Regions from separate parts of the Homo sapiens genome. Here all the other regions are reported to be linked to region 1. Evidence: microRNA targets listed by miRTarBase, many of them from high-throughput screens and not tested one by one. Region 1 holds a microRNA gene; each other region holds the end of a gene's coding sequence.
The links. Region 1 holds the annotated microRNA hsa-miR-568 (AUGUAUAAAUGUAUACACAC, at 5,762-5,781, opposite strand). A microRNA usually pairs through its seed, bases 2 to 8, with sites in the 3' UTR of a target mRNA and lowers its output. Matches are read on the target gene's strand: a 7mer-m8 pairs with bases 2 to 8, a 7mer-A1 pairs with bases 2 to 7 and ends in A, and an 8mer does both.

Region 2: the mRNA of GNG5 is a reported target of hsa-miR-568. Seed matches in the 3' UTR shown: 7mer-A1 at 3,776-3,782.
Region 3: the mRNA of SPPL3 is a reported target of hsa-miR-568. Seed matches in the 3' UTR shown: 7mer-m8 at 7,122-7,128.

What each region holds. Positions count from the first base shown.
Region 1 is chr3:114,310,774-114,321,485 of GRCh38, forward strand. MIR568 (microRNA 568) reads right to left here and starts at 5,796; the gene lies at 5,702-5,796. It overlaps ZBTB20 (zinc finger and BTB domain containing 20), which reads right to left. Exons shown (of 12, transcript NM_001348800.3): 12 at 3,727-10,712. It overlaps LOC124909411 (a long non-coding RNA gene), which reads left to right and starts at 1,306. Exons shown (of 2, transcript XR_007096008.1): 1 at 1,306-1,386; 2 at 2,413-2,639. RefSeq lists an enhancer at 5,190-5,239.
Region 2 is chr1:84,492,225-84,502,228 of GRCh38, reverse strand. It overlaps GNG5 (G protein subunit gamma 5), which reads left to right. Exons shown (of 4, transcript NM_005274.3): 3 at 259-403; 4 at 3,681-3,904. The coding sequence ends at 384. It overlaps RPF1 (ribosome production factor 1 homolog), which reads right to left. Exons shown (of 9, transcript NM_025065.7): 6 at 6,774-6,856; 7 at 6,166-6,347; 8 at 5,859-5,985; 9 at 3,877-4,800. The coding sequence ends at 4,759. Among named protein-coding and RNA genes, the nearest start is that of SPATA1, 9.2 kb to the left of the region's middle. RefSeq lists an enhancer at 8,084-8,133.
Region 3 is chr12:120,757,218-120,767,929 of GRCh38, forward strand. SPPL3 (signal peptide peptidase like 3) reads right to left here. Exons shown (of 11, transcript NM_139015.5): 9 at 10,177-10,376; 10 at 9,046-9,155; 11 at 5,293-7,853. The coding sequence ends at 7,782. Among named protein-coding and RNA genes, the nearest start is that of ACADS, 37 kb to the left of the region's middle. RefSeq lists a silencer at 5,881-6,044.

The sequences.
Region 1 (10,712 bases):
GTCTTCATGAGTGAACAGGACCTCACTATGCAATTTTATTTCCTGCCTTTTCCCCTTTTCATTTCTCACCACTGTGAGCCCCAGAAATGAGTCGTCATACACTCAGGTTCATTCAGATTCCATCAGTGCTGAGCTGGACAGGCAGGGAGGCTGGGTGTGAGGTCCACCAATGACAGCATTCTGGTGGGCACACCTCACCCCACAGAGAGGGGGCAATGGGCAGTGTGGCTGTCATTTGTGGGGTGTGAGTTTTGTTTAGTCTCCTGATTCTTTCAGGTGCTGCTTCATAGCTGTAACTGGTAGTTTCCCACACTTACTCCAAGTCACACCTGTCAAGAGGTACAGGGGAGCTTTTTGTGTGGCAAGAGCCTGAGCTTTCTGGAAGTCACAACGATATACTCAATGTTTGAGGTAATTTATTTGCATAAGGTAGTGTAGGACAATGCTATCCAAAGAACTTTCTGCAATTATGGAAATGCTCTATGTCTGTCCCATCCAGTATGGTAGCCATTAGCTGCATGTGGCTGTTGAGCACTTGAAATTTGGCTAATGTGACAAAGAAACTGAATTTTAAATTTTATTTCATTGTAATTAACAAATTTAAATGTAAATAGCAACATGTGACTGGTGGCTAGTATATTGGACATTCCAATTCTAGTAATTGCCTTGCATATAGAGAAAACACAGACAGCTGTGTTTATAGGACATTGGATGGCTCGCCAGTTGTTATGCATTTGAAATGGCTATCACCAGGAAGAAACTTGAAGGTTCTCCTCTACTCTCCTATATCCATCCTCTGATCGAGACAAACCATGAGGTCAAAGCAGGCTGTACATTTATTTATTTCAGGTTTTTTCAAAAAAAAAAATCTGAGGCAGCTAAGTGGTCCAGTTCATGTAAATAGGGCCAAAATTGTCAAGAAATTTGCAACTCATAGGGGTTATGCAGAAATAGACTGTCATCACAGGACTTACCATAGACTATATTCATTCTGACTTCATGTAGGCTGTGAAGAGCACCTTCTCTGGGACTAAAACTCTGATGGACTTCACAGAGATCAAAAAAGAAGTAATCATGGAGTGTAGTGGACAGGGAATTTAGAAACTTGGTCCAAGTGCTGAGCTCTGCAATTAGTTTCACGACTTTGGATAAGCCACTTAACCTATCAAAGACTCATAAATATTTCCTCATTTATAAAATGGTAATATTACTATCTTTCTAAGATTCTTAAGAAGATGAGGCAGGAACGTGGCTGACTGCTTTGTGAGCTGCAAGATGCTGGGTTAATATTATTGTGTTCTGCCCCAGGAACACGTGCACCAGGTAATGCTAATGATGCCACAGAAGTTTTCATGGAGGCAACAAAACTGGCTTGGAGCAACTGAGGTATCTGAAATTATCTATCAATCAATGTTCTTAAAAACTGAGATATAAGGAAAGCTAAGAGTTGCAGATACAGCCTTGGGGTCCACAAGTTCTCTGCAAGCGTTTAAACATTGTGTGTTTTAAGTGAAATGATAATCTTCAAAGAAGTCATCTATATCTGGATGTTGATAGCCTTCTTAAAACAGAGTGTTGTCATTGGTTTTAGCCTCTATGTTTGTGTTTATACATATAAACTTGATTATAATCAAGTTTATTTAAAGGCACAGAAGCTTAATTTATAAATGATTCATTTACTCCCAGATGGGTGGAGAAGTGGAAGACTTTGCAGTATTGAACTAACAGGAAAGTGAAGCGATAATTGCTTTACTTTGCACACTGTAGTGTAGGGATGTTGTATTCAGAAGGGTGTGTGCAGTACACTTAACTTTGTGAGCCATGACTTAGATTCAGGAAAGCATCATTCTATGCACTCATTGTTATTGTAGACATTACTAATTTTATAGTTTTACTTGTACTTAATTAGTAACTTGTAGTTTTATAATTCTACAAGGGATATAAGCATAGTAAGTTCACTTGTCGTTGTGTTTGAGCCTATTTAAGAATGTCTATAATAAAATAATTATGCATATTATGAATTTATTACTAGATATTATAATAAGAATAATTATTTTATTATTATCGCCTCCCATTGAGGAGGTCTGTGAAACTATTTTTTTTCCTTCATATGGGCATACACACATTACTCAAGTTTGAGAATAATGGTATGGTATAAATATTATTGGATTTCAGAAAACCTGACCTCAGGCACTAGTTTATTGTTTTTTATTGGAAAAACACATATTTCTGAACCTGTGTTTTTATAAATTAGTGCAATCATAGCTACATCACAATATTTACAGTATAACTGTGAAGATGAAGGATATTAAGGAGAAACTTTGTAAACTGTGAAGTACCATATGAGTAGCGTATGTGTCATTTACAATTATTACAGCCTGTATATAAATCGCACCACAATGTTTTTAACAGGTACAGAAGAAAACTTAAGAGTGTGTGGATAGTGCAAAGAGAGATCCAAGACTTTGGGTGAAGCTGGCTGGCATTGTTAAGAAGATGTTGGTTCACAGAAATGATATAGAGACAAATTATGCATCATGAAAATATTTTCTTCCTCTTTATACTTCTAGACTATCAATCAGGTTGACTTAGAAGTTCAGCAATTGAGTTGCAAGAAGTAAATATTTAAATTCACAGTGGTAATGTTGAAATCTCAGGAATTTATTGACATCCTTTCAGTCTAGAGGTCTCTTGATGACTCTCCCCATCCCAAGCTCATGCCTGGATATTTTTGTGCTCCTCACACTGGTGGAAATGTCTGTCCACACTCAGCTTCTCCAACTCAAAGCTTAGTGTTCTTGCGAGTCCCCAAACTAGACCGCTTATTCTTTGGACCCTTTCTTGACTCACTCTAGCCATTATCAACTTCCTGTTAGTTTAGAAACTCCCTTGGCATTGAGAGTCTGAATGGCACAATCTAGCTCTTGATTTTATACAAACCTCTCTTCATGTCTAGTTGTTAGATTTTAAGCCTTCTCATGGCTGAAATAATTTCCTCTCTTTTATTCATACATTGCACAGTGCTGACTGAAATACAGAAGACATTGTGAATTTAATTTGTGTTGACTTCACCAAGGACAAACAAGATATAAGTTTTCTTCACCATATTAGCACTTTCTGTAAGAATGATGAGATCAGAGAGCTCTTTATGGCCAGGGTCACTATAACAAAGAATCTATGGGCCAAATAGGAGTCCCTTATGAGTCTCCAAAGTCATTAAAGAGGGGCATGTTTTGTGCCATGAACTTTCCTTTTTTGCATATGGAGCTGAGAAACCCAAAAGTTAAAAAGGAGACTCAGTGATAGATTCATGGATAACAGAGATGGGTGGAAACAAGAATAGGTGGGCATAGTGTTATAATATGGGATTGATTATTTCCACAGCAGGCAGACTGTGATTTGCATGTGGAAAAGGAAAAAATGTGAATCAATTTGTAGAGCAATAAGTGATCCTTGTCATTTTTGAGGTTTGAATATGTATAAGACAATACACCAATTTGCTTTATATTTCCTCAAAGTGACTTCGACATCACCAATCCTGTCTGTAGTTCCTACTTCTTGTATTGAGAAGACTAATATACTCAGAGTTTTTCTGGCCTTGTAGGTAGAGTCCTCAGTTTGGATAAATAATCTCAGATTAGACATAGAATACAATGTGTGAAAGAATGTGGAGAACTGCCTAAAACAGAAACTACAGTATAAAGAAGACACAATAGGAAACCAAGAGAAGAGTTTTTTTTTTTTTAATTATTCCTTCATATTCAAACTTCACAAACAGTGTGAACTTGTACAATACCTCGGAAAGTGAAACTTACAAAAAAAGTGCTGGTAACATTTAAAAAAAAAACAACAAAAACCCCAAAAAAACAAACATCATTCTTAGCAACATCAATTACTCTTCCACACAAAACAGAAACCTTGTAAAATTTATTTTCGTATTTTTAAGGCGTAATACTTCCGTATAAAGTATATGCAAGAGATAAAACTTCACAGTATTCCAAAATGTCACAATAATAATAATAATATAATAGTATAATGAAGCGCTACAGTTAATTTTTCTTTTTTTGAATGTTTTTTTTCCTGTTTAAATAACAAATACAAGTCACAGGTAAATATACGTGAGAAAAATACGAGGCTAATATTAAATGGCAGGTAAGGATACTGTCACTGTAAGAAAAAACTGGCAGGATGTGTGTATTTAGTCTATATTTTAAAGCACTTGATAGAAAAGGCGTATGCAAGGTTTTTCCAAACAATTTTTCTGTTTGTTTGTTTGATAACTGACAACAATTTAAGAGTATAATGAGAAAAAAAAAGGAACAAACTCCCTCTCAAAACTATTGACCTGCTCATCCCAAACCATGTATATGTTGATGGATGGATGTGTGTTTTTGTGGATATATGGATTTATACCGTGCACAGAGTGATACAAGCAGTGTTCCATGCCCACCTGCAAAGATTGGAGGGTATAACACTGCAGTCATTCAGCCCAGGTTCCTCTTAGGAAATTAACCTTTCAATTTAAAGCTCTCTTTCCTTGCCTCTCCCTCTTTCCAAACTCTTCCTCAATTCCCAGGTCTTTGTTCTGAAAAGACAATCTGGTTAGAAAAGTTGCCCTCCACTCATAATTCACTGGGAAATGGAAACTGCATAAACAGTGACACACAGACACTGGAAACACCACTTGAATGAATGAATGAATGGATATGTATGTGTGTGTGCATGTGTGTATGTTTTAGGTCACATAAACATACAGTGTGTGCGTGGGTGTGTGTATTTTAGGTCTAAACATACAGTGTGTGTGTGTGTGTGTGTGTGTGTGTGTGTGTGTGTACACAGTAGCAATTGCAAAAAAGGGACCATATTCCTTTCCATACTAAGATACAATGTGATAAGAAACATTTCTGTGCAGGGAAAAAGGTTTCTTCGAATCTTATCACAACACTGCGGCGGGAAAATCAGGAAATGGGTTCACCTTTCAGCAGTCACCACAGTAAACTTCATTGAGAACATACATGCCCAGATATCTCTTCTGTGCACATGTATATGTTAACAGCTAGCCATTCAGCCAACAGGTAACAGAAAGACAGCAGATAGCAAACACATCAATAAGGTGCTCAAAGAAAAAAGTGGCACCCACTTCTCAAATGGATGGCCACGTTAAGGTGCTTCAAAAAAGGTTTTTTGTTTTTTTGTTTTTTTTTTCAGTTTTTATTTCAAACATTAAGAGAGTACTGATTTTCACATGGTAGTTCTGAGTCAGGCCAAAGGTTTTGAGGTTTCTGACATCTTTCACTGAAAAGGGCTTTCACTGTAGTAGTTTTGTTCAGTTTGTTGTGGGTGACGAGTTTAAAAATGTTTTTCATAGCCAGAAACTGAAATCAAATCAACATGACTAAAAGAAATAACTGATGAAATGGTATATAGAACATTACTGCATTCGCATCGGATCAAGATGGTTTCGCCCATTTTTCCTTTTTCACTAACACTGTTCCTTTTTTTCCTTGTTACAATCCATTCTTTATGAACATACAGAAATGACCAAAGTCACTGCAAGTAGCTGTTTTTATTTTTTGTGATCTGTTGCAAGAGTCCAACCTTGTTTCCTCTGCTGCTGTTTGTGTAGCATCTGGTTTTGTAATGAGCATCTGGATTTGTAATGAGCATCTGATTTTGTTATGTGCATGTGTGTATATATGCACATATACACACCTATACATGTATAATATATACACTATATATATGTGGATACATATAGGAAGTGTGTATACATTTATACATAATATAGTGTATATCGTTTCAACTGGAGATAAACTGAACTGGGTTCAGACACTAGCACATGCTTAACTTTCCCCTGCTCCCTCTGTATATTTTAAACAGTCTGGAGCTTTAATTTATTTTTTAAAGTGCATTTTCAATGCAGAAAAACTGTAATCCACTGATTCCTTGGAAAACATTTTTGATGAGAAAAATCTGACAGTTCTCAGCCCCAAGCAAGAGAAACCTGGGTTTGGTCATGCTGGGGGCTGACGTGGCAGTGCCAGGCTCGTGCCTGAGTGATTAATGGACATTCTGGACTCCGGGCACCTTAGCAGCAGCAGCAGCACCTTTATGAGAAGGTAGAGATAGAAAAGGAAGAAGGAAGGAAAGCTCAGATGAGGAAGAATGAAGTATTGTGTTTACGTATCAAAATTGCTAACTTTGACTATAATGGACTTGTGCAGTTCCTGTTGGCCTCGGCTAAGAGATGCCATCTAGTCCCTTCTCCACCAACTGACACCAAACTCCCCATGGCCCCTGCATGCTCAAACATCACCCATATGTCCCCACGCCTAAGGCTGACTTCTGTGTCAGCTTCTTGTGGGTATGTGAGTGCCAGCATCAAGTAGGAATAAGGCACCAGAGAAATCAAAATGTTACAAAAAGATGCAAACCCCATTTCAAAGAGCCTCTCCCATTGCTCCATTAAAATATTGCATGTGATACCATTCGTTTGTGTGTACCTAAAGTGTGTCAAATACAGTCTCTGAAAGGAACTCGAGGCCCTTCAGCACCAGAGATCTTCAGGAATGCATCTTTTTTCTAAACACACCCACACCACCCCCAACCCCCCATGCCCACCCCACACCAAAAGCAAAAGCACCAAATTGGGAGAACAAGGCTGCTTGCCATTGCTCACCTCATTTTTGAAAAAATCAGAGAAGTCTATGAAATACAATGTTCAGGAAATGCTCTGAAATCAAACGGATTTAGGCTGTCATGTACATGGTTACTCAATGCTTTAAATGTCCAAAGAGTGTCATGAAGGGGTTGAAATGTTTGTGTTCAATGTTTAGGGGGAATGTGTTAAACAAAAGTTACTTCTCAAACGATGCCCAAATCTTCCACTAACACATCAACCTCCCCTATCACTTTTTAAAAAAATTGTAAAGAGGAAGAGGTTCATCTAACTATAAAAGGAAAAGATGAAGGCACGTGATATTATTCGGTCCCACAATCCTTAAGAAAAACGGTATTTTGCAAGTTTGTGTGTGTGTGTGCTCGCATACATGAAACGCGAGTCCAAGGGGCCATTGGGGCAGTAGTCCAAGGGAAGCTGGAAAAGGGGAACAAGAGAGAGTTTTTAGACAGAAGAAAGGAAAAAGGAAGAAATAGAGGCCTCTCTTCAGCTTTCTGTCATTGACAGTCTCAAGATTCGGCTGCTTTAGAGTCCAGAAAGGAATTTGTTTGTCTTGGTCTGGAAAGTGCCCCAGTTAAATATCTCCAGTTCATCATGGTACAGCTTTTGGTGTTTCCCTTTTCCCTTCCCTCCAGCCAAATGATTTTTTAAAAAAATCACAGTTTTTAAAAATTATTTTTTCAATGTTGAAAAAATATGGAAAAGCTATTGAACAGCCTTAGGGCACTGCCTCTCCATCTTCACAGTGAGCAGATGGATGGATAATCCACAGAGTCAAAGAGGAGGTGGGCAAGATCCCTTGTGCTCAGTGGTCTCTTGCCCCACCTTCCTGAGGGCTGGGGGGCCTTCACACCACCCACAGCCATTTCCCTCCTTTGGGTCCCTGCCCCCCTGCTCCCATCCATGGAATGTGGGCTGCTGAGAAAGGCAGAGCCAGGCTAGGGAACGATGATAACAGTAACAGGAGGGTCTCAGAAGCAGAGGGTGAAGGAGACAGGAGGCGTGCTCTCCTCAGGCAGTGTTAGCAGTGTGCTCTCTTGGCAGCCTCATCTCAGGATGGGAAAGTGTGGTTGCCCACTGAGAGGGTGAAGTCCCACTCACATTTTACTTCGTGAGACCTCAACTCTCAGGCTCACCACCTTTATGCCTCTCTTTGCATCAGGTTGGCCCCCAGTCCCTAAGAAGGCAATGATTTGAGATAGAGAGGCAGAGCCCGGCTGTGTCATACAAAAAAGGGCAACGCACAGCAGGATTTCAGAAACAAATTTAACTTTGGTTTTCCAACTTTTTCAAACCATAAAAATTAAAGCAGGGCTTCGGTGGCTTTGATAATCTGACAGCTGTTATATTTTTCTCATTTGGCAAGGCTAAGGCAGGGGGTAGGGGGAAGAGAAAAGGGGTTTCCCATAATTGGTTGAAGACACAGGGTGGTAAAATGCTTCCACACTTAAACTCACAGTCCAGTGTTTTTGACATTTCATAAATAGCTTTTTTTCTCTAAAAAAAGAATAAAACAAGAACAATCCCTTTACTTACTCATCTGAAACAAAATAAACAGCAGTGGGTACAAACTTCTTCTTGTAACAATTACAAAAAACAACAATATAATCCCAACTTTTAACACGCATCTTGAATCAGTAATTTTTTTTTAACCTCAAAACTGCAGCATATCCTTAAGGGCAAACTTTTCGATTAGTTTTTTTCTTTTTTTTTTTTTAAATAATGTCTTCACCAAAAAAACAGTCTTGTACCAATAAAATGCATTCAAAAATAGAAAATATTACACAACAAAAATATGTATCCTTCCTTTCCAAAAAAGATTCTTCACAAAAAAATGTAGAAAAAATTCCAACAATTTTTTTCCTCTCCTAAACATTAACCTTCAGTCTAGGGCACAATTATTTATTGATTTAAATGTCTGTTTTTGCATAAAACATGGAAGATGCAAAACATTTACTGTATTAGGATTGTGAAGTTACAGCCACTCCCACCCCTGCTCTAAAACAAAACAAAACCAGAAAAAAACCAGCAAACATTAAACAAATGATAGAGTCAGTTGGCTAGGAAAAATACCGCTGTTCTTCCCTTTACTGTGCATTTGTATGGGTAAACGGGCCAGTTTGGTATTGGGGAATGTTGACGAAGGGAGATCAGGTTTCAAGATTGGATTCAAGAGCTTCTTTAGCATATGCTGATACCAATGAGTCACTGACAGTCCCCAGGTTGTACAACTATCCATTGCAAATCCTCATGAGAAGAGAAACACATGAGGTAGCACATGGGAAGTCAGAGGACTGAAGCGTGTCCATGTGTGTACTGTACACATACATCTTGAAAAACCACTTTCTCAAGCATATACATATATATATATATATAAGCATATACATATATATATACACACACACACACAAATTTGTTACATAGCCAATTTGTTTTTAAATATTTTTTCTCAAAAGGGAGCTCAAGCATAAGTTAAAAGGTGATGTGGAAATCCAGTGGTATGAGGAAGGCTGGGGTTATTTCCTCCATACTTTCTTCCACATTTAACCTGTTTGGGCATTAATTGCAATAATGACAAGATCTCTGCTCTCAGAGGAATGCTCTGTTTTCTCCATCCCCATTGAACTACCAGGTTCCTTTTATATTTTCAGCATTGTAGTTTAAACTATGTATTTTTCTTACTTGATGATATTAATCTTTCATGTGGGATGTAGTTTGTATGTGTATTCAGTACAAATATATTTTTTTCATAGCTGTTTTCCCCTGTTGCTTATTTGCTGTTTTTTTCCCTCATGGTTTTGCTTTGTTTTGTTTCTGATTTTTTAAACAGTGAAATATGTCCAATTTTATTTCCAGTGCATTAAACAAATTTTAAATTAAAAGAAGAAATAAACGTTTCCCCCCATCTTTCTAAAGGAAATGACTAACAAAAGTACAATACAATAGAATCAGGCATTGCCAAGAATAGCATGATGTGCAACCTCAATTATATCAAAGAAAACAAATAGACAAACAAGAATTATAGAACATAAGTATGAAGGAGCCAAGATTACATAATTCCAACTATGGTATGATTGGCAAGCACTGGTTAAAAAACAGGTAAGGCTACTCTTAGATTTCTAACTCAACATAGTTAACCACTGCTCTTCTGTCTTTTCCTTCAACTTTTAATCTTTTACTCCCTAGTTCTTTATATCTTTAAAATGAACAAATTTGTTTTTATATTTTTGGTCTACAGTAGAATTACATATTAATAATATAATAAAAAGATATTTCATTAACAGGTTGGTACTGCATCCATGTGGGGACAATAGAAAAAAAGTACTCAAATAGACATAGCAAATGGACTCTATTCTTATAAAAATAACCACAAATATAAAGAAATTATAATCAGGGCAACAGATTAAAATGAAAAGGGGTATAGAAAGATATATTTTAGATAATATAAACTCCTGACAAGCTATGCCCTAGAATTGCAGCCTCCAAACCTTGCCCATGATTTCCACCTTTCCATAGCCTCACTTCAAGTTCAAATGGAAATGAAAACAAAATAAAGTGAACAGGTGGTTGAGCCAGCCAAAGCCTCCAAGTTATGTTAGGTGGACAGTAAGACCAGGTGGACAGCATTTGAGAAACTGGCTGGACACAGGGGAGCTGCTACTGGTATTTATATTTAATTTGGAGGAATTTCCAGCCCACTGATAAAGAGAGAAACCAAGGAACCAAATGACTTTTCTAGTAACATATAATATATGAGATGAAATATAATTCTGTTAGAGAGGACATGGTGGTGAGATGGGAAAGAAAAGAGAAGAGAAACAGGCAGACTTCGGGCACCATCTCCCTTTGTTTTCTACAATGCATTGGTTTCCTTCTGTTGCGGAGCATTCTTTAGGATTAGCTACAGACCCCAATGTCCTCTGAGTAAATATATGTCAGCTCAGCTCCTGACATGATATCCATGCTTATTGGCCTCCTGGAGGGCTGGGTGGTTCTGGAGGGTCCCTCCCCTGCTATCACTGCCCACTGGCCC
Region 2 (10,004 bases), not on the chromosome of region 1:
CGAGGCGGAGGTTGCAGTGAGCCGAGATCGCACCACTGTACTCCAGCCTGGCAACAGAGTGAGACTCCGTCTCAAAAAAAAAAAAAAAAAAAAAAAGAGCTCACTATTTGACTTAAGTCTTCAATTATTATATAGTATCTTCTTTTGAAGCAAGAGAAGTACTGTTTTATTGTAAGTACAATATTTCCAAAGATTGAGAAAACCTTCATTAAAATGTTCTCACCATCTGGCACTTCCCCCCCTCTTTGTTATGTATAGGTTTCCCAGGCAGCTGCAGACTTGAAACAGTTCTGTCTGCAGAATGCTCAACATGACCCTCTGCTGACTGGAGTATCTTCAAGTACAAATCCCTTCAGACCCCAGAAAGTCTGTTCCTTTTTGTAGTAAAATGAATCTTTCAAAGGTAAGTTTCCTTAAATTTAAAACAAAAACCCACACTGTAGGAATAACTAGTCTTCTCTTTCTTTGCAGCACTTAAAAGATCATCCCATGCCCTTTCCTTTGGCCCTCCATTTCCAGTATTTTTCTGTTTTGCAAGGAAAGTGAGGATTCATGAAACTTGCTGACTTAGTAGCCATGAAGGCTAATCGTTTCTATTTTACCATAAAGAAGGTTAAGTAGAGGATTTAATAACCATAAAGAGGGTATAGGAGAGTTACTACAAAATCCCACTGCCGTAACAAGCCATGTGTTACTTTTTAGAGCATTGGCCTAATGGAGTCCCCAAGTACTAGTTTTGTTTTTGTGTACCTGGCAAATATTTAGACAGTTTTTAAAAAATCTGCAATGTTTATGGGGATAACTTAAAGTACTACCAACTGATTTGGATTAACTCTTGATGTTATTGCTCTAACTGAACCCAGCTGTAGAGCAGTATAGCAAAGATTGGGAATTGGAAATGCAAGAGAAAGTCAGATGTAATTGAGTAAGCCAGTGTGGTAGAGGCGTTTGGACTGAGGTAGAACAGACTTTATATTTTGTTCTCATTTGTTAGATTAAAGATAAAACATGAAGGAAATGCAGTATATAAGTTCTTGGTGGCAAACAGACAGTGGACTGAATTTCAGAGAATTAAAAACTAAAGACCCTGTTGGCTTTATTAAAGCATGCTTCAGTACATTAATTTGTGCCTTCCAGATCAAATGTCATGTGTACAAAATGTATGTTAATCTAAGAGATGTGACCAAAAACGTTTTGGATCATTTAAAATGTAACTGAAGGGTGCTGCCTTTTATAAATTCTTAGTACTTTAGTTAGGGAATGTACTCATTAGTATTGACCTATGAGAAGCAAACTTAAACTAATAGTACTTTTTTAAAAAAGATTTTGTATATGGCACACACCCCTTACTAACTTTCTGACTTCTCCAAAGTCCAGGAAGCTGCTTCCTAAAATACCTTGTTACATAGTTGTGCCCTCCTTAATTAAGCTTCCTAGACCTGGGAGTGTCCAGGAAGTCTGTATAAGTACATGTTTCCAGTAAATACAATGATTGGTTAAGATGTTTAAGTTTTTTGAAATACCAGGGGGAAAAAAAGCCCTTTGAAAACAGGTGTCATGTGCACAAAAATGCACATGAAGAAGTAATTCACTTTCATATTTAACAGTTTATTATAATATCCTTTGTTTCTGGTACTATTCATTTAATTCTTCATGGTAGTTTTTGGAAGTTTCATATTTTTATGGTTTATTAATGATTGTTTTTTTAACCTCAGTTCTTGTATTCACTTTACAGTGGTTTATTTTCATTTGAATAAAATACTGGGCAGCTGTTAATAGTTTTACTTCATAGGAATCTACAGATAAGTGTTTAAATGAATTGCTCAAGTTTAAAAATATGGCTGGGGGTAAGAACCCAGAAGGTAAAATAATGTCTATTAATCCCAGCAGTATAAGAAAACAGCTTTGTGGATATTAAGATTTGCAGCAGTTTGGGCTAGGAGAATAATAATTGGGCATCAAAGCATTGCTTCTCAAGCTTGAATATATGCAAATCACTTTGTTAAAATGCAAATTCTAATTCAGAAGGTCTGAGGTGAGTCCCTAGAACTTGCATTTCTTACAACTGCCCACCTACACTGATGCTGACAGTACTGGACCTACACTGAGTGGCATGAATGTAAAGAATCTACATTGGAGTTATGTATATAAATACAGTTTTATCACTGGAGTGCAGTGGCGCAGTCTCGGCTCACTGCAACCTCTGCCTCCAAGGTTCAAGTGCTCCTGCCTCAGCTTCCTGAGTAGCTGGGATTACAGGTGCACACCACCACGCCCGGCTACTTTTTGTATTTTTGGTAGAGACAGCGTTTCTCGAACGCCTGACCTCAGGTGATCTGCCCACCTCAGCCTCCCAAAATGCTGAGATTACAGGCGTGAGCCACCGTGCCCGGCCCTGTATTTCCTTTTAAGAGGAAATTTTACTATTTTTTTTGAGATTCCAGCTTTTGAAATTTTTCCTCTTTTACACAAAACAAAATAGAATAACACAGGATTAAAAACTGTTAATCAGTAGAACATGTATGCACAAAAAAATGCAGATAAGACGACAGGCTTATTGACAGTATTCGCCGTTTTTCATTCTGCCTTTTTTAAATGAATTTATTTCATTAAATACTCTTTGTAAACAAGATATTTAATGGTTGTACTAAACTATGATGGAATTATACTTCACTGAATATTTAAGTTTCCAAAATTTGAGGTTACAGTGAGGTGAAGATTTTGGTGAACATCTATATATACTTAGTACCTCTATTAAGTTTCTAGAAGTAAAAAGGAGTGAACGTTTAACATTTTTACAACGTTGTACTTGATATCCCCTGCCAATATAATACTTTGGCCTTCCACTAGAAACATGAGAATGTTTTTTCCTTGAGTCCTAACAAACCTTAGTCTTTTCTGTCACTATTTTAGGTGAGATTAAACATTTTTCACAGCATTCTGTTTATGCCTTTTCAACATTTTTGTCACAGACTATCTCAGATTAACACTTTTGTACCTTTCCATATCAATAACTAATCCTAAAGTTAGTATGCTCATGTTTTAATTTTTTAGTACACTGTTTTTCAATTTAATGTTTTCATTTTTTAAATCTTTTAGTTTATACTCTATTAAACTGAAATATTATGGTTTGAAAACATAACTTATTTTTTAAGGCATAACTTATAATAGCTTTGTATTCCATCATATGTAGAAACCTTCGTTTATCCATTCTCCTACGGAGTTATATTTAGGCTGTTTCAGTTCTTTGCTGTTAAAATACTAATACAGTCAGTATCCTTGTACATGTTTCTCTATGTCTGGGTTTATCTAGGTAACTAGAAGTGTGGTTGCATCCTTTACTTCACTAGATACTGCCAAACTGCCCTGCTAAATATAGTCTTGCTCATTTTTCTAAGGATGTTTGGATTTTTGATTTAAGAGAGTTTTATTAACCTTTTTTATTATATACAGAATGTATTTTGGCAGTAATCTTAGCAAGTTAATCTGTAAGTCTGTTTATAAAACAGGAATGACTTATACATCAGAGTGGTTGTGAAAATTAAGGGAAAGATTTTACTGTTACTGGACCATAGGCATTTCCCATCCTGCTTCTTTTAAGTTATTCATGAAAAAAATTAAAAACTATGTTCTTTGATACTTTACCCTAACTCACCTTTTTTTTTTTTTCCCCATCTTAGGTTTCCCAAACCACTCCTTATGATCCAGTGAATATTCAAGAGAGCTACATTTGAAGCCTGTACAAAAGCTTATCCCTGTAACACATGTGCCATAATATACAAACTTCTACTTTCGTCAGTCCTTAACATCTACCTCTCTGAATTTTCATGAATTTCTATTTCACAAGGGTAATTGTTTTATATACACTGGCAGCAGCATACAATAAAACTTAGTATGAAACTTTTATTTTGCATTATTATTGGTATTAAATACATGGTATATTAATCTGTTCTGAACACCTGAAGGGGTTAAGTTTGTACAGTTTTTTCCACCTACTCTTCTCACATGACTTTATGCCATACATCTGGCAAGACTGCTAGGGAATTAAAGGTAAACTGTGAACCTTTATTCTTTTAAGGTCAGGAGGAGGCTGTTAAGTTCTACGGGTTTCCATCCATGAGTTACTTATAGGGTTAACTTTGTTTCAGTGCCTGAATGGAGTACTACAGCACCATGTAATGAGGTAAAAAAGAGCTCCCCACAACGTGGGCACAAAAAACCAAAAACCTCAAAATCAGGAAGCAAAGATTAGCTTCAGTAATTTGCAACTTTGCTTTAAACCCTGGTAGATCATTTTGCTTTAAATTTTTTACCCTTCTGAAGGCTTAAGAGAATGTTAAAACATCCAGAAACCTGGCCTCCATTTAAGCTATTAAAACTGTGCCAGACACTGGGAATCCAAGGTTAATCTGGTATAAAAATCAAGGGTTAGCCAATATTTACCAACCATTTTATTCCTCTCATGTGTTCTATGCAAATAGGAAAGTTAATCTGAATCTTGATTCCAACTTAATTATTCACAGTTACCCAAAAACAAGAGAACTAAGTTTAAGGAAACCTAAGCCATCAAAATAACTTTTATTTGTATTTTCTACATAAACACACAGTGGCAATTCATGGCATTTGGTAATTCGTCCAGACGTGAAAGGTTTATGAAATCAGCAAATGCCATTTTGAAAAGAGTATTCTGTCAAAAATAATTTACCAAAGTTCAAGATAGGCCTGTTCAGCAAAATCCAATATCATTCTCTCAGTACTTTATAAATGGAATTTTCTTCTACTTGTATCCATTTCCCGGGGCTGAAAGTGGAAAGCAAGGGAGTGGAGGAAGAAAACAAAACAAAAATATAATTAACAATTCAGGTAAGACAGTAAAAGTTAACGTCCCTAGATCTTCATAAGTAACACTAGTGCTGAAAAACCGGGTTTGTGCGAGACCCCGAATAGTCAGTCTTCGGTCTAATATAAAAGATGTTGGCAGTTACTGTGTGTGTGTGATTTTAAAGTAAAATGTTACTAAGTGAAGTACTGCTTATACTAGATAGAAAAGGATGTTTTAGGCCATGCACGGTGGCTCACACCTGTAATCCCAGCACTTTGGGAGGCTGAGGCAGGCAGATCATGAGGTCAGGAGATCAAGACCATCCTGGCTAACACGGGGAAACCCCTTCTCTACTAAAAATAGAAAAGATTAGCCGGTGTGGTGGTGCACACTTGTAATCCCAGCTACTCGGGAGGCTGAGGCAGGAGAATAGCTTGAACCCGGGAGGTGGAGGTTGCAGTGAGTCGAGATGGCGCCCCTGCACTCCAGCCTGGGCAACAAAGCTGAGACTCATCTCAAAAAAAACAAAACAACAACAACAAAAAAGTTTTCATTTATGATTTAAGATGATGATCTCCAAACTTCTAAGAAAACTTATCAATAGTTCTCAAGAAACATGTAGTAGAGTCACATATAACACAGGCTTATAAGCAGATTGCTGCTGGGTCCCACCCCCTAAATTGCTGATCGAGTAGGTCTGTGGGCCAAAGAATTTTCATTCCTAATAGGTTCCTAGGTAATGGTGCTGGTCTCGCTTTGAGAACCACTAATGTTTATACTTCAGATGAGCCAAGGTTAATCACCAGACCCAGATATTGTATCTTTTTTTTTTTTTTTTTTAGTTCAAGGGTATATGTGCAGGATGTACAGGTTTGTTACATAGGTAAACGTGCTATAGTGGTTTGCTGCACAGATCATTTCATCACCTAGGTATTAAGCCCAGCATCCATTAGCTATTCCTGATGCTCTCTCTCCTCCCACCCTCTTATCCCATACTTTAAAAATGACTTAGTCTTTTTAAACAATAAGCACATACCTTATGGACCCATTCATACTCTCCATATTTAGAATCAAAGGTTCCTTTCTGAAGAGACCTTAATTTTAAGGTAAAACGTGGTCCAAGTTCCTGAATTCCCACTTTCTTTTCACTCCTGAATATGTATCTTCAAAGACAAAAAGAGTTAAATTAGTCTGAATGAGCTATTGTTTAACATTATGACAGGGTTCAAAAGATAATTCATTTTATCTTGTATGATACTTGCTACAATATGTTGGAAAATTAGTTCATGTTGAAAATATATTTCATAATTGAAATCAAAGTTCAATGAGTTTACCTTCCTCACCTGTGAAATCTGAAGAATATGTAATCCCGTTGATTGTGGAATGTGGCAACCTGCCTTCCGATAAATTGAGGATTATGAGGAAAGAGAGATGCAAACATACGTCCAATTGAATGACCCAGCCGTGTTGTAAAATTATTCAGAATTATTTCAGGTATGTGTTCTGTGGGGTCCTTGCCTCTTCTCTAGAAAAATAATGAAAAATAAATATCACAATGGGCTAAGCTAATTGGCAATACGTCCCAATGCAATTTCAAGTATCAAAATTTACATGACAAATTTGCAAAATGTATTTTTTAGTGACAAACTACCACAGATGGCTTATCAAACCCATGAAATAAGATGTATCTAAAATTATTTTAATATGCACTGAATGCAACAACAAAAAAATCCTATTAGAAAATCAACGTGCTTCATAGTAATGAAGACTATTGCCTGCCGGCTGTAACTTAACCACAGTCTCCCAAGAGAATTGATAGATTAAAAACTGCTCTAATCAGGAGAACAAATGCCATTATTAAAATAAATTAGAGCTATAAGATACAGCATCTATTGATCAAATAAATATTGTGAAGAGATCAATGCCAATCAAAGAAATGTATAAAACTTACCTTAATTTCTTTACGAAGACGAACACTGCTCATTTTAAAATGAGCAGTTGGGCCATTTGGCAAGTGACTCAAAATAAGTCCATCTGTTCATAAAAGTTAAGAAAAACACATTGAACTCTGTAATCTAAATCTAATTGTTTAAATAACTGGTCCTCTACATCCAAAGGCCCCTAAAATCTGTACCCAAGTGAATAGGCAGATGTACATATTCCTCTGAAGTGACATTTTCCTACCATATCAAAAGCTCAAAATCAGTCAAAATCTTTCAAGAATATAGACTAACCTAGAGTAGTCCTTTTTTTCTCTTTTTACAATATAATAGTTAATCACGCTCAATAGGGTATCTTAAGGTACCCTAAACTAAAGTAGGTGAAAAAAAGCTATTTAATTGACCACTACTCTTAGGAGTAAAATAGGATGTGATTCTATAATCATGTAACACTGCAAATAGAGTATGAGTTTACCTCCACGTTCTAAAGATGTATAACCCCAAAATGTCACTTTTATACATTTGTATGGTCACGATATGCTGTCAACTTTGAATAACATCCCATGAGACCAGACTCCTAAACTTTCCTCTATGAAATTAAGGTTATTAGTATTTTGCAAGAGATCACCCCTTACTTAGGATTACTGTACCCCAAATTATAATCAACAAACCAATTAATAGCCATTCACTGACTGTCATTTCCCATGAACTGAGAATTATGCTAGACATGCTAAACTACAAATGAAATGTGAGATCACCTACCTACAACCAGCAGGACTAGCAGCCCAAGGACTCTAGAAGTCCTGGGTGCTGCAAACTAAGGTTGCTACCTATATAATATTCTTCAAGTTTGTGGCACAATCTGACCTTCACTTGAAACACCTTTACTTTTCATGAGTAATTCTTGGCTATTGCTTAATGGCATTACAAGCAGGCATATTAATGACAATGGACAGGGCTTTCACTTTGTATTATGCTTTTCTAGTTTAGGAGAAATTTTCAAACACATTTCATCTGATTCAACAACTTAAATAGGCCAGAATCAGATGGTTTCAAGTCTATCTGCATTTAATATGTATCTTTCAAAGCAGATGTTGCCATCTTTTTACAATGGCATCAACACTCATTCCTCCAGATTAGAAGCTATGGTATCTTCAGCTTCTCCCTCTCCCACCAAATCTTAACTGCTTTTACCTTCAGAAGTTCTCACTTAGCATCCTCTTTACCCTTACTGTCTTAGTGAGGTCCTCAAGATTTTCCACCTAGATTATTAAGGTAGTATTGTGGTTGGTCTGACCTTTTTCTCACCATCTCAAGTACATCTCCTAATGCAGATTGTAAAATCAAGTCTGGACTTAGGCCTTGGTTCTATAAGTAACCAGCTATGGGACTCAGCTGTTTCATTATATCTGTACCATAGTTTCTCACATGCTAAGTGAAAAACAAACTAGATACCTTCACAGTCTTGACAGCTGTAGCTAATTTCATACTACTCTCATCACAGACTCATCTACAGAAAAAAGACATTAGTATCAGACTCATAATGTGGCCACAAATTACCTTTTCAACCTATTTACCCTATGCCCACATCAAGCCTGTTTCCTAACTGGTAGGTACTCACAGTCTTATGTACTATATATGTGAATCCTAGCATGCATTTTTTGCTTCTGCTATTTTGAATACCTGCAACGTTTTACTCATCTATTATGGTCTACTTCAAATGTCACCTTTTTATGTAGTCAGAATTAAGATCTAAATCTTCTCAGTTCTGCTACCACAGCACTCATCACTTTTTGAGTTAGGAAAACACCTTTCTTCCCAACTAATCTGTTAAAACTTAGGTAGGGATGGGAATTTTTTTCTTTTGTTTTTTTTTTTTGAGACGGTCTCACTCAGCAGCCCAGGCTGAAGTGCAATGGCACGACCATGGGTCACTGCAGCCTCAACCTCTCGGGCTCAAGCAATCCTCCCACCTCAACCTCCCAAGTAAATGGGACTACAGGCATCATGCCCAGCTAATTTTTGTAGAGAAAGGGTTTTGCCATGTTGCCCAGGCTGGTCTCAAGCGATCCACCTGCCTTAGCCTCCCAAAGTGCTGGGACTGCAGGCAGATCTTTTTTTTTTTTTTTTTTTTGATAGTAGTGCCTACCATGCATCAGATTATCAGCAAACGTTTGAATTCTATCATTTTAAAAGATTCACCACAGGCTAAACTTCATGAAATACAGCCAAAAGTATTTATTAAGGGGTCTAGGAGATATAAAAGTCATTTCTTCCAACGCCCAAATCAAGGCTTAAATCCTTTCTAGAACATTCCCACTAAATTGTGGTCTGTGTCAAAAGCCAAGTACAAAACCCAAACTTACCAGTTTCTAAATAACTTCTTTTCCCATGTACCTGCATTGTGCAAGAGGCTTTATTTACATTACTGCTAATCCCTAACACAAATCACATAAAACAGGAGTCATCATGCCTATTTCAGTAATGAGGAAAAGAGGCTGAAGAGGGTCAAGTAAATTAGCCTAAGTAAATCAGACTAAGGCAACTGCAGATCTCAACCACGGTGGGACTGCACCTAGCTTAAGCCCCCTGCTGACAGCTGCTCACATTTGGAAATGTACAGAGGCATTTTGTTTGTCAGTATGACTGAGGTGTTACTGGCATTTAGAATCCAAAGGCCAGGAATGCAAACCATCTTGGAAGCTGCCAAGAGTGTAGCACAAATAATTACCCTACCTCAAATAACAGTAGTTCCCCATTTAGAAATAATGAATAGAGGATGTAGGTCTGTACAGATAAAGTTTACATGCTTCTCACTATACCACGTTTACTAAAATGCCTACCATGTGCCAGACACTATGCTTTATAAACATAATACATTTAATGTGATCTTTGTGGGAACTCTAAAGATAGGTATTATTTCCCACATTTAAAAAACGAGGAAATTGAGTGGCTAAGAAACGTGACTAAAATCACAAAACTAGAAAATAATGGAATCTGTATTTGATATCACAGCTGCCCTGACTCAAAGCCACTACTAGGTTTCTACAGTTTAGACAGCTGATGAAATTCTATTTTAGAATAAGTCAAAAAAGTATATCCCTTTAACTTTCACCATTCAGCACTACTCTTCCACACAGTAGCCCCTCCAATGGTCTTTAGAAAGACGCCATGTTCCTAGAATCTACTTTCCCACAGGCTAAATCCTGTTTTTTCAACTTTCCCCCCATGTGTCACCATTA
Region 3 (10,712 bases), not on the chromosome of region 1:
GGACAGCAGCTGGGTCAGCCCAGGGCTTGGCAGCCAAAACCCCAGCTCTTTCCTGCCACCTACTAGGGTTGGTGGATCTCCATCTCCAATACGATGCTGTTTGCATGGTCCTTCCCTGTTTACAGAAACTCCCCACAGTTCTGTATGTATGCTAAACAAGTCGTGTCTACAAAACCTGGCTGTGATTATTTTCTCATAATCTGGGCAATGAGCTCAGTCTCTGGAAGCAGGAAGATCTGGGGCAAATTAGCTGCCCTTGAAACTTTGGGTACATAAAATGGATGATAAAATCTGCCGTTACATAATGAGACTGAAGATCTGAGATGACAGGCCACCATTCTGGCCCACAGCATGGAACACACTCTGCAGTTAGGGAGACCCAGGCAGACGCTGTTGCAAGAATCTTTATTTGCTACAGGCAGTGGATGGATTTAAATGTATTTGGAACTAAGAGTAGGATTTAAATGTATTTGGAACTAAGAGTAGGCCCTAGAGCCATCAGTGTTTATGCCTTACCTGTATTTTCTGGGGTGGAGATCATTTCTAATCCTGGGATGAGGATGGAATATAATGATTAGGGACAGTGTTTAGAGCTTATTCTGCCACTTAGCAATTTGTGATCTTGGGGTCTTGGCGAGTTCCTTTGTGACAATGGTGACAGTAATGGCACCTGCCTTTATTAAAGGGCTCTTGGGAGGCATGACTGACACCCGGTGTGTGGCCATCATTGGCTGGGGCTCTCTCCAGCAGATCTCCCCAGATCTGCTTTGACACCCCAGGCCTCTGAGCTTTCTTTAGGTCATGAGTATGTCCCTTCTCCTTGCTTCACGTTCTCCTCAAATGAAGCCTGGCAACTGTGTCCCTGGCCAAATGATCAAGAGGGATGTGGGACAGGACAGGGCTGAGGACGAAGCCCGGGCCCATCCCTTCAAGGTAGCATCAGCTCCTTCATCAGCGACTTTTGGGGAGGGTCATGGGTCATCCCACCAGTTATTGATCTGCTTCATCAGACGGTGCCTCAGCCCTGATTGCTTCACTGTGTCCTGGAGGACTGAGAATTTTCCAAATGCGTGGCTGGAATCTCCTCTTTCACTCTCTCTAGTCTGGCTACTGTCCCTCTCCTATTCAGTGGACTGACCTGAGCCAAGTGGCTTAGAATGACACTGTGTTTTATTTTAACACAGGATAGGAGTTTGGCCCATGAGTCTTTTTTTTTGAGAAGGAGTCTCGCTCTGTCACCCAGGCTGGAGTGCAGTGGTGCGATCTCGGCTCACTGCAACCTTCACCTCCCAGGTTCAAGCGATTCTCCTGCCTCAGCCTCCCGAGTAGCTGGGACTACAGCCATATGCCAGCACACCCGGCTAATTTTGTATTTTTAGTAGAGACGGGATTTCTCCATGTTGGTCAGGCTGGTCTCGAACTCCCGACCTCAGGTGATCCACCCACCTCGGCCTCCCAAAGTGTTGGGATTACAGGCGTGAGCCACCGAGCCCGGCCCTGGCCCATGAGTCTTTTGTTCCAAGGGTGTTCAAGAAAAACCTAGATGTATCAACTAATACAGGCCCACAAAAGACTGACAGAATGGGAGCTTCACAGTGTAGTAAACTTTTCCCTCAAAACAAGCAGTAAGACTTTAAAGTACACTGAAGTTAAAGAGGGCACATGCAGTGTTTATTATGGAAAAAAAAAGTACAGAAAAATAAAAACGTCAACACTGGTTTGTGTGCAGAATCTGGGTAGAGGTTGATCTTCTTGGCCTTAAGAAGCCAAAATGAGGAACTGCATGGGCAGGGTCACCCACCATCCCCCTCTGCATATGGAGCTTTGTGCTAAGGCTTTCAGTGTGTAGAAGAAAATTTCAAGACCCTGGATGGGGGAAATCACCCCTCAGCAGAGGGGAGAGAACCAGTATTCCTAATGATGAACCGGGAGCTGTGGTGGTTTGAATAATGACAGCGTACAGATCTAATGATTTTAACTGTATTCCAACTCTCTGAGCATTGTGTGTGAAATATATGAGAACACAGTAAACCAGAAGAGCGCCTCATATTTACTCAATACTTTCTATGAGGCACCTTCATCCCCATTTCAGATGAAGCAGCTCGGACTCAGGGGGCTCCATCCCTAACCAGAGCCCCATGGTGGCTGTGTGGGGGATGCGCATGACAAATGCCTTCACACTCAGAGCACCACAGAGCAGTCTTCCTCCTGCCTCTCACTGTCCAGGTCATCTCGCATACTCTGCAAGGCTTTACATCACTGAAGACTTTTTTTTTTTTTGGCTTTAGCTGCTCTATTGGCTAGAACAACTCTTCTTCCCCAATTTCTTCTGTTATCTATTTTGGCAATTCATTGTTCAGGTTAAGAAGTGTGGAGTCACTGTGGAGTCCCCAACCCTGCATCCAATCTGGTAGCAAGTTCTGTTCTTCGCATCACCCTAGTCCAGGCCATGGCCTCTCTCACAGCGACTGCCCCGGGCAGAACGCCTACACTCAACAGGGGAGGGCTGCGGGAAGTGCCAGGAGGCACAAGCGAAGGAGGAAAGGTGGGGCCGGGGCTCCTGGCCAGATGGTGGTCTTGGGGAGGGTGGCACTGCATTCTACCCGCCGTCAAGCCGGCAAGGCCACGACTCATCCGTGCGATGCTTCGTCATCTTAGTTCCTCCCTGCACTAGCAAGCGCTCAGCCTCTTTCTCTGAAATTGGTTTCCGCCTTCCCCAGGGAGCTGTCACAGGATATGTTACTATCTGCCTGGGGATAAAAACCCCATCAAGGCACGACAGCAACCGCAGGTGTGAGGAAATTCAATCTCTAATGGCAAAGGCTCAAACACAAAAGCTAGAAGCTCACGTGGTGGCTACACTCCAGCAGCTCCAGGTGGGCAGAGTGAAAGGTGGCAGTAGCAGGCTGACAGGTGGTCCGCCTGGAGAGAGGCTCTCTGGTGAGACAGAGCAACTGGTGTCGGGATCCCGGGGCTGGATCGCTTGTCTTCAGACATTTGGTTGAATGCAGTGACCATCGTGCTGTCCCCCTCCGTCTCTGTCCTGTGGACACCCACTTCCTGTCTCCCATTCCTCACAAGCGCAGGCCTGCTGCCCACTGCCTGGCGGCTTCCCCACTCCCAGTCTCTCAAGTCTTGCTTCCTCTGCCTAACTGGTTCCCATTCCTGTCATCTTTGGATCTGGTGAGAATCCCAGGACTCCATGGGGGCTGGAGACAGCTCGTGGGCTTAGCTATTTTGGAACCTTCAGAGCCTCTGTTCGCCTGCAGACAGGTGGCGTGTTTTACAGGTTCTACTCAACAGGAAGAAGATGTCTTGGAACTTAAGAGAAAAACTGGTTAGGCAGACTCCAAATGAAAGGAACCAGAAGCGAAGCGGAGTCTGCCGCATGAATTCTTAAGACCTCAGGTTATCTAGGAAATCTACCGCACGCTAAAGTGCTCCTCCGTAAGTGCTGCAGTTAGAATCTTCACAGCCTCCCTGCAGGATGTTTGTATCAAGCACCTGCTAACCACTGGCTCCGTGCGGTAAGACTTCTGAAACCTGTAGTGACGAAAGATCATTGCGCTTGGGGCTGTAGGCTTTCGCTTGTCTTCAGACATTTGGTTGAATGCAGGCCTGTGTCCACCAGGAGCACTGGGCTTCTCCTACACCAACTTGCTTCTCAGCCTTCTCTTCATTGGCACATCCCGTCCAGTGATACAGGATCCCCAGCCCAAGCCTCTGCTATTTACAGCAAGGCCCAGAGTTACGGAGAGAAGGCTGTGGATTCTACTCTTGAACGCACTGTGGCATCCCTGCGTGACCTTGTGTGGGAATGGCTGCCACACCCCCTCCCCACAAGCCAAGCATGCTAAAGCAAGCCCTGCACAGACCGCAGGAGTAGGGGGTCAGGATGTCTGGTTTTGTTCACTGGGGGGCCCAGTGCCTCAAGCTTCACTGAAACATGACTGATTGCCTCTAACGGACAGGAAAGGGCTCTGGATTTCAAGGGAAAGGCTGAGGAGGAAACAGATGATGGCTGGAGCGGGAAGAATTTTGTGATGGGAGAGTCTCTGCGCATGAGACAGTTGGAATCTGAACCTGCAGAAATTTGAGTTTAGAGTTTTGCAGATAGAAAGCACCCTATACATTGCAGGGAATAGGAATAATTTCTGGATTAAAAAGTCTTACCTGGTTTATCCCTTCCAATAAGAGGAAGAAGCTTGAGTTGGATGACTCGATCTGCAGTGCTTCAGCTGACACGTGTTAGCAGCCATTGTCCTAGAAATGATTTCACTGTTGGAAACTGCTGAAGAAATGTGATTCGGTGAAGTGGGGGAGGCTGTCCTGGCCACTGTGCACTGAAGACCAGAAAGAGACCGAGATGGCTTCCTTCTGAGCCTGTACCGCTGACATAGCTCTGTAGAGAAGGGGGTTGTATAAATGATGTCCCTAAGGCATGTACTCCCATGTATAGACACGAGTGCTGCATTCCCAGGCTCTGACGTAAACGCTAGGCTTTACAAAACAGAAACGTACACACAACATGGGATCTGGTGAGCAGTAACGTGAGAGCTGCTAAGCAGACACAGCAGGTTCTATTTTTAACACTTGATTGGCAAAATGGAACTCCCTTCCCCTCCACCCTCACAGAGAACGAGTACTTTTGTTTTTCTTGTGGGTGACCTAACTTACCTGTTTACCCAAGGCCTGTGAGCCTGCTACAAAAGTAATTCAGACAGTAGCTTAGTCCCAAGCCACCGAACCGTTCCTATGCGGGGAGCTGTCACTGTCACATTCAGAAAGCGTATGCACTGTAATAACAGCAATGGAACACACTAGGCTTTGGACAGACTTTACTGTCATATCTTCATTAGCTCAAACTAGAAAAAAGAGTTATTAAAAAGCGGGAGTTCTAGTAACACACAGTCTCTTTGTGAGGAAAAAGGACTTCAGATCAGTGAGGAAGGAATCTGCTGAAATTTCATGAGCATGCCATGCCTAATGCAGCAGACTTCCTAGAAAACCCCTAAACCATGGTATTTGAGAAAACAGAATAAGAGGCGGACCTAAGTGTATCAGGCAGCGGGGAGCAAACGAGCACTGGAAGGGAAGTCTAATGTGTGCTTTAACTGCAGCCACCCACTCAACCCTCCGAGACGAGTAGAGTATTTGCTGTTTCTCTGCCAAAGTTTTAAGGGAGTGTTTTAAGGGCTTTGAAGATTAGCAACTGGAATCCAGGGTGCATTCACAGCCCTGTGTGGGTATTTCCCCCCAAAACCTGCACAGAAGTGAGAATGACAAAATAACGACGTTCCTTCTGTCTGGAATTTAATTTTCTTATGAAAACAAAGACAGAAAAATTAAAATGACCCACTGCCAGGATAACATTTCCTTTTTTTTTTTTTTTTTGAGATGGAGTCTCACCCTGTCGCCCAGACTTGAGTGCAGTGGCGCAATCTCTGCTCACTGCAACCTCCGCCTTCCAGGTTCAAGCGATTCTTCTGCCTCAGCCTCCCAAATAGCTGGGATTACAGGCGCCTGCCACCATGCCCAGCTAATTTTTGTGTTTTTAGTAGAGACGGGGTTTCACCATGTTGGCCAGGCTGGTCTCGAGCTCCCAACCTTGTGATCCACCTGCCTCGGCCTCCCAAAGTGCTGGGATTACAGGCATGAAGGATAACGTTATTTCTACCCATCACTGGCACTTGCCCTTAATCCGAGTCATTTTGGAGCCCCCCTCTCTGTCTCTGGGCCTGCTTAATTAGCTATATGCATCCTCGAGGGCTGAGAAGGAAGGAAGGGAGAGTCCGCAAGTGGATTTTTAGTCTTCACCCAATGCAGAGGCAGTTTTGAGTTCTGTGGACAGCAGAAGCTTCAGTTCTTTGATGTATCTATGACTGGGCCAGAGCTGCAGATGACCAGGTCTGGGGACAGACAGAGTCTTCCCATCAGTCTTCCAGAACAGGGAGGAGATGGCTGGGAGCTCTGTTTGGTACCAACAACCAAAGTGAAGATTATGTGACAAAGGCTACAAAGGAGTCATTTATTAAAAACAAAACCCCAGAAACCCCTCAGCAGGAATTGATGACAACAACAGAGGAATCCAACACCCTGACTGCTTCAGACTCTGTTGACAACAGGATGGGTGCCCCCTGTGAGCTCGATCCACAGTGACTTCAAGCCACAGTGACACAGCACACTAATTCATTACACAGGTCAAGACAGAGGCAGCCACTGGGGCGGGGACCCTTGGGGAGAGGCTGGAACTCAGGGCCCTTCTCCAGCCTTTGTTGTCAGGCATCCTCATGCCAACCGCAGGCTTCTCTTTGCCTCTGAACAATGGGCACCTTCTTACCAGGCAGGGGCTGCTTAGGTAAAGGTCAGCAGACCTAACACTAGTTACTCCCAGAAATCTGGGCTTGCAGCAGAGACCACAGCACAGGGCCAGGCTCTCAGGACACAGCAGCTGGTTCTTTCCCCAGTTACTGGAATTTAGGGCCCATCTCAGAGGGGCATTTGACATGTGTCCCCAACACCCGGTTGTCACCACAGGTAAACCAAGACTATAATCACAACAGCAAGGACAGGATTGTGTTGCTTTTTTCCTTTTTTTTTTTCTTAAAGGAGTGAGGGCATGGAAAATATACAGCACACCAATGAAACAAAATGTCAAAAAAAAAAATACAAAAAAATAGAAAATAGAAAAATGTATTTACAAGTAGTACGTTACTATGATGAGAAAGCACAAAGACACCTGCTGCTATAATACATGCATTGGCTCGAGAAGAAACTACGGAACACCCTGCGAGGGAGAAGCCTAGAAAAGAAAGAAAGGGCCAAAAGGTTTGAACTCTTCATCCCTAATTTGCTACACTGATCAAAACCAAGTAAGGGCTCCTGAAGTCCATGAGTCTATCATCAATCAGCACAAATGCTATACTAGTTTGTAACTGCGGGGTCAGTTGTGAAGGGGAAGGACAGCAGCTTATCCATATACAAGGAAGCCACAGTAAACTGCTCGACATGCTCAAAACGACAGCAAGCCCCTGTCAGCTACACAGCGTGATCTTAGCAGGATTTCATTTTTGTTTATTCATATATATCTATGTGTGTGTTTATATATATATATGTACGTATGTATAAAAACCGTGCCCTTGTTCACTGCCAACACAACATCTGGGTGGACATGAACTCATTACAACAAATTCTTATGTGGATGTTGTAAGAAGTCACTCAATGTCTGTGGATTTAATAAGTCACTTCACACCACAGAAAATATTTAATAAATCCAAAAAAAGGAAAGAAGAATATAACGACAGAAGAGCTTCTGTCTCAGTTCTCTGAAACTGAGTCCCCTATAGGAAACTGGTCCCAAAGTTCTCGAGGGGTCATTGAAGAAACTTCGGTTTGCTAATTTTTTTCATCCTTTTAGTGTTCAAAAGTTCTAGAAAGACTCCTCGCTGTTTTCAGTTTTTAAACAGTCAAATCTCCATCTCCCCCAGAAGGTAACAGTCTGGTGCAGATCCATAAAAACGTGGGAGGAAGGCGCGCTGGGGAGAGGCCTGTCCCTCTTGGAAGGGGCCCCACCTCTACATCCGCAGGAAGAGAAGGAACCAAACAGGGCTCCAGCACCTCTCTCCTGCAAACGAGCTCCCTTTAAATGCCAAATCCAGTCACACGGCAGTTCCTTAAACACAGGTACATTTCTGAGTACCAGGCCAGCTCTAAGAGGAAACAAACCATGAGTTGAGAGAAAAGGACTATGACGGCCATCTGGTCACTTTCCACGTGATCCATCATACTTCCAGGAATCGGGAGCTGCTGGACTTGGAGTGGAAAGGCTCAGACCACATCCGCCGGAGGTCGCCCTGGGAAACAAGGGACTTTCTAAGTTACAGATTTAAACATGAGGCACACACAGCTGTCTGATTCTTTAAAAAAAAAAAATTTTTTTTCCAGGTATGAAGTCTTCCTATATATTGGCCAGGCTGGTCTCAAACTCCTGGGCTCGGGCAATTCTCCTGCCTCGACCTTCCAAAGTGCTAGGATTACAGGCATGAGCTGCTGCGCTTGGCCCCTTTCTGATATTTTTTTTTTTTGAGATGGGTTCTCACTCTGTCACCTAGGCTGGAGTGAGTGCAGTGGCGAGATCTCAGCTCACTGCAACCTCCGACTCCTGGGTTCAAGCGATTCTCTTGCCTCAGCTTCCTGAGTAGCTGGGATTACAGGCACTCACCACCATGCCCAGTTCATTTTTGTGTTTTTAGTAGAGACAGGGTTTCACCATATTGGCCAGGCTGGTCCTGAACTCTTAACCCGCCTGCCTCAGCCTCCCAAGGTGCGGGGGTTACAGGCGTGAGCCACCATGCCCCTGGCCCCTTTCTGATGCTTGATCTGAGATCAGATTGCTTCTGTGGGAAACCAAAGAGCATTTAAATCTTACCCATTCAAAAATAACCCACTATTTTTAGGAGGACTCCCTAGAAGGGGTGCTTTTAGGCTCCCTGAGCAAGAAAAGGGCTTTTATCAACTCTCTAGAGGTAGTGAGTCAAGTGAGCTGGGCAAGTAAGTTGACCTCTGTATCTGCTTCCTCATCTGTAAAACGGGGCTGAGAATAGATATCTGGGAAATAATGTGCTCTTGAACTCTGGTTTTATCATATGCTGCCTCAACACTATTCAATCTTAATTATTCCCAAACTTTAACGTAGTGTTAAGCTGTTAGGTGGCAGGAGGGCACTGCTTTGAACAGAAGCAGGAAGTACCCTCAGCTGGGCTCTGGGGCTTTCAATTAGTTATTCCTCGACCAGGTGGTGTAGTGGTCTAGCTCATCAGCATTTTCTGTCAGTGGCTGCACGAATCTGGAAGCGTTTGCTAACGCCAGGGTAGCGCGCGCGCGCACACACACACACACACACACACACACACACACACACACACAGTCGAGATCACAAGCTCACTCAGGGGCTTAAGCAGAATCACCTCCAGCGAGGAGAGTGCAAACCGAGGCACAGGCCAATCCAAGTTATTGCTTTCACAGGTTTATAACTGCTGCTCTCACCTTTAAATAGGCCATCGTGAGGAGTGGCAATAAAGTAAATGGCACCAAATAGAGAAGGGCGGGCTGGGCGGCCCGGTGAATGCGAGACGCCACAGTAGCAGTGAGCAGGCCTGTGAGGAGAGAGAGGCATCTGTGAGACACGAGAGGGAACCCGTGTCACCTGGCTGCTGCTGGGCAAAGTCCTGCAACTGTACAGATCTAATGTGCTGTCGTCCATTCTATGGTTGGGGTGTGAAATGCCCAGCTTGGGCAGTTGAAGAAATGTGGATCAGCACAGCTTTAAAAAACACCTACAACTCCAAGGACACATGACTGACCCAAGTCTCACTCCTTGCTCAGGTTCCTGGGTTCAAACCCTCCTTCCAGCTCCAAGTGTGCCTCTGTCTCCTGTGATGCTGGACTTGGGAGGCAGAAGACCTGGGTTCAAGTTCCAACTCTGCTACTCACAATAGCTAACATAAATGTAGTTCAGACCTTCCACCTCTCTGAGCCTCAGCTTGCTCATCTGTCTAATGGGGATAATGCCACTTGCCTTGCCCCTCTGAGTTTGTGGACTGAAATGAACCCATGTGAATGAACTGCTGTGGGACGAGGACAGTGCTGGGGTTGAGGAGGACGTACGGAGTGCAAAAGCTCCTTTCCAGTCACTGTGCGGGAGCAGTTGCATGTGCGGGCAGGTTACTGCTTTTCCCAGCCCCATCACAATCATCTCCTGTCTGCCTACACATGAGCTGGCTACAAAACTTGGCCTAGGTCAGAGTGGCAGAAATGTAGAACTAATGAATGTAAGTAAGTATCTATTGAATAAAGTAGGAAATAAATACGACAGTCATTCAACTCTAGAGGAAGATTTAAGCACAGACTAATCCACTGCACTGTGTGCTGTGTGTCCTTGGCTTTGAGGACTGACCTGCTTTTCCTACAACGTTCTTCAGATACACAGCTGGAGAGGGAACTGGCCTATCCAGTACACAAAACACTTAGCATCTCACGGGCCAGGCTGTCTATTACAGCACCCAGAATTCCTGCTCTCCTTCCATCCAGTAACTGTAGCTAGAAGACCTGATTTAATTCCAAAGGTTGGAGGACAGCCAGAGCGAGGATCATCTGCAGTCTCTCTGGTTCTCTTACCTACAAAGTATCCGATGAGGGTGCAGTGAAAGTAGGAGACCTTCTGCATGCGCCCGGAGATGTTGGCAGGTCCAGGGGCCCCACAGGAGTCCCCACTGGCTTGCTTTTTGTAGTTGTCATAGCGAAGGACAAAGCATAGTAGGAGACCAGGCATAACGATGTCTCCGATGCCCAACATGGAGAAGTGGCTGCCAGTGGAGCTGGAATGCAGTTTCACAGGTTAGTGACGTCACACTCTACAATCCAGTTTCTATTCCTTTTGTGCAAAGTTTGTTAGCTTTTTAAGGAGTCAAAGAGCTTATCTGCATGGCAGATGGAAATCTCTTCTGATGGAACATTAGTTTTAAGAGTGTAGAGAGAAAAAGCTGCAACAGTACTGGCACTAGAGGTCTCCACCTTGGCCCCCCTGTTTCAGGAGAGCCCCTTGGAAGTGACTGCTGAAGTGATTTGCATAAGTGCTGCTTCCTCTAGAAATGTCAAACAATTCATCATTTGTGACACATTCACTGTTGAGACTTCAAATAAGCACCTGGCTA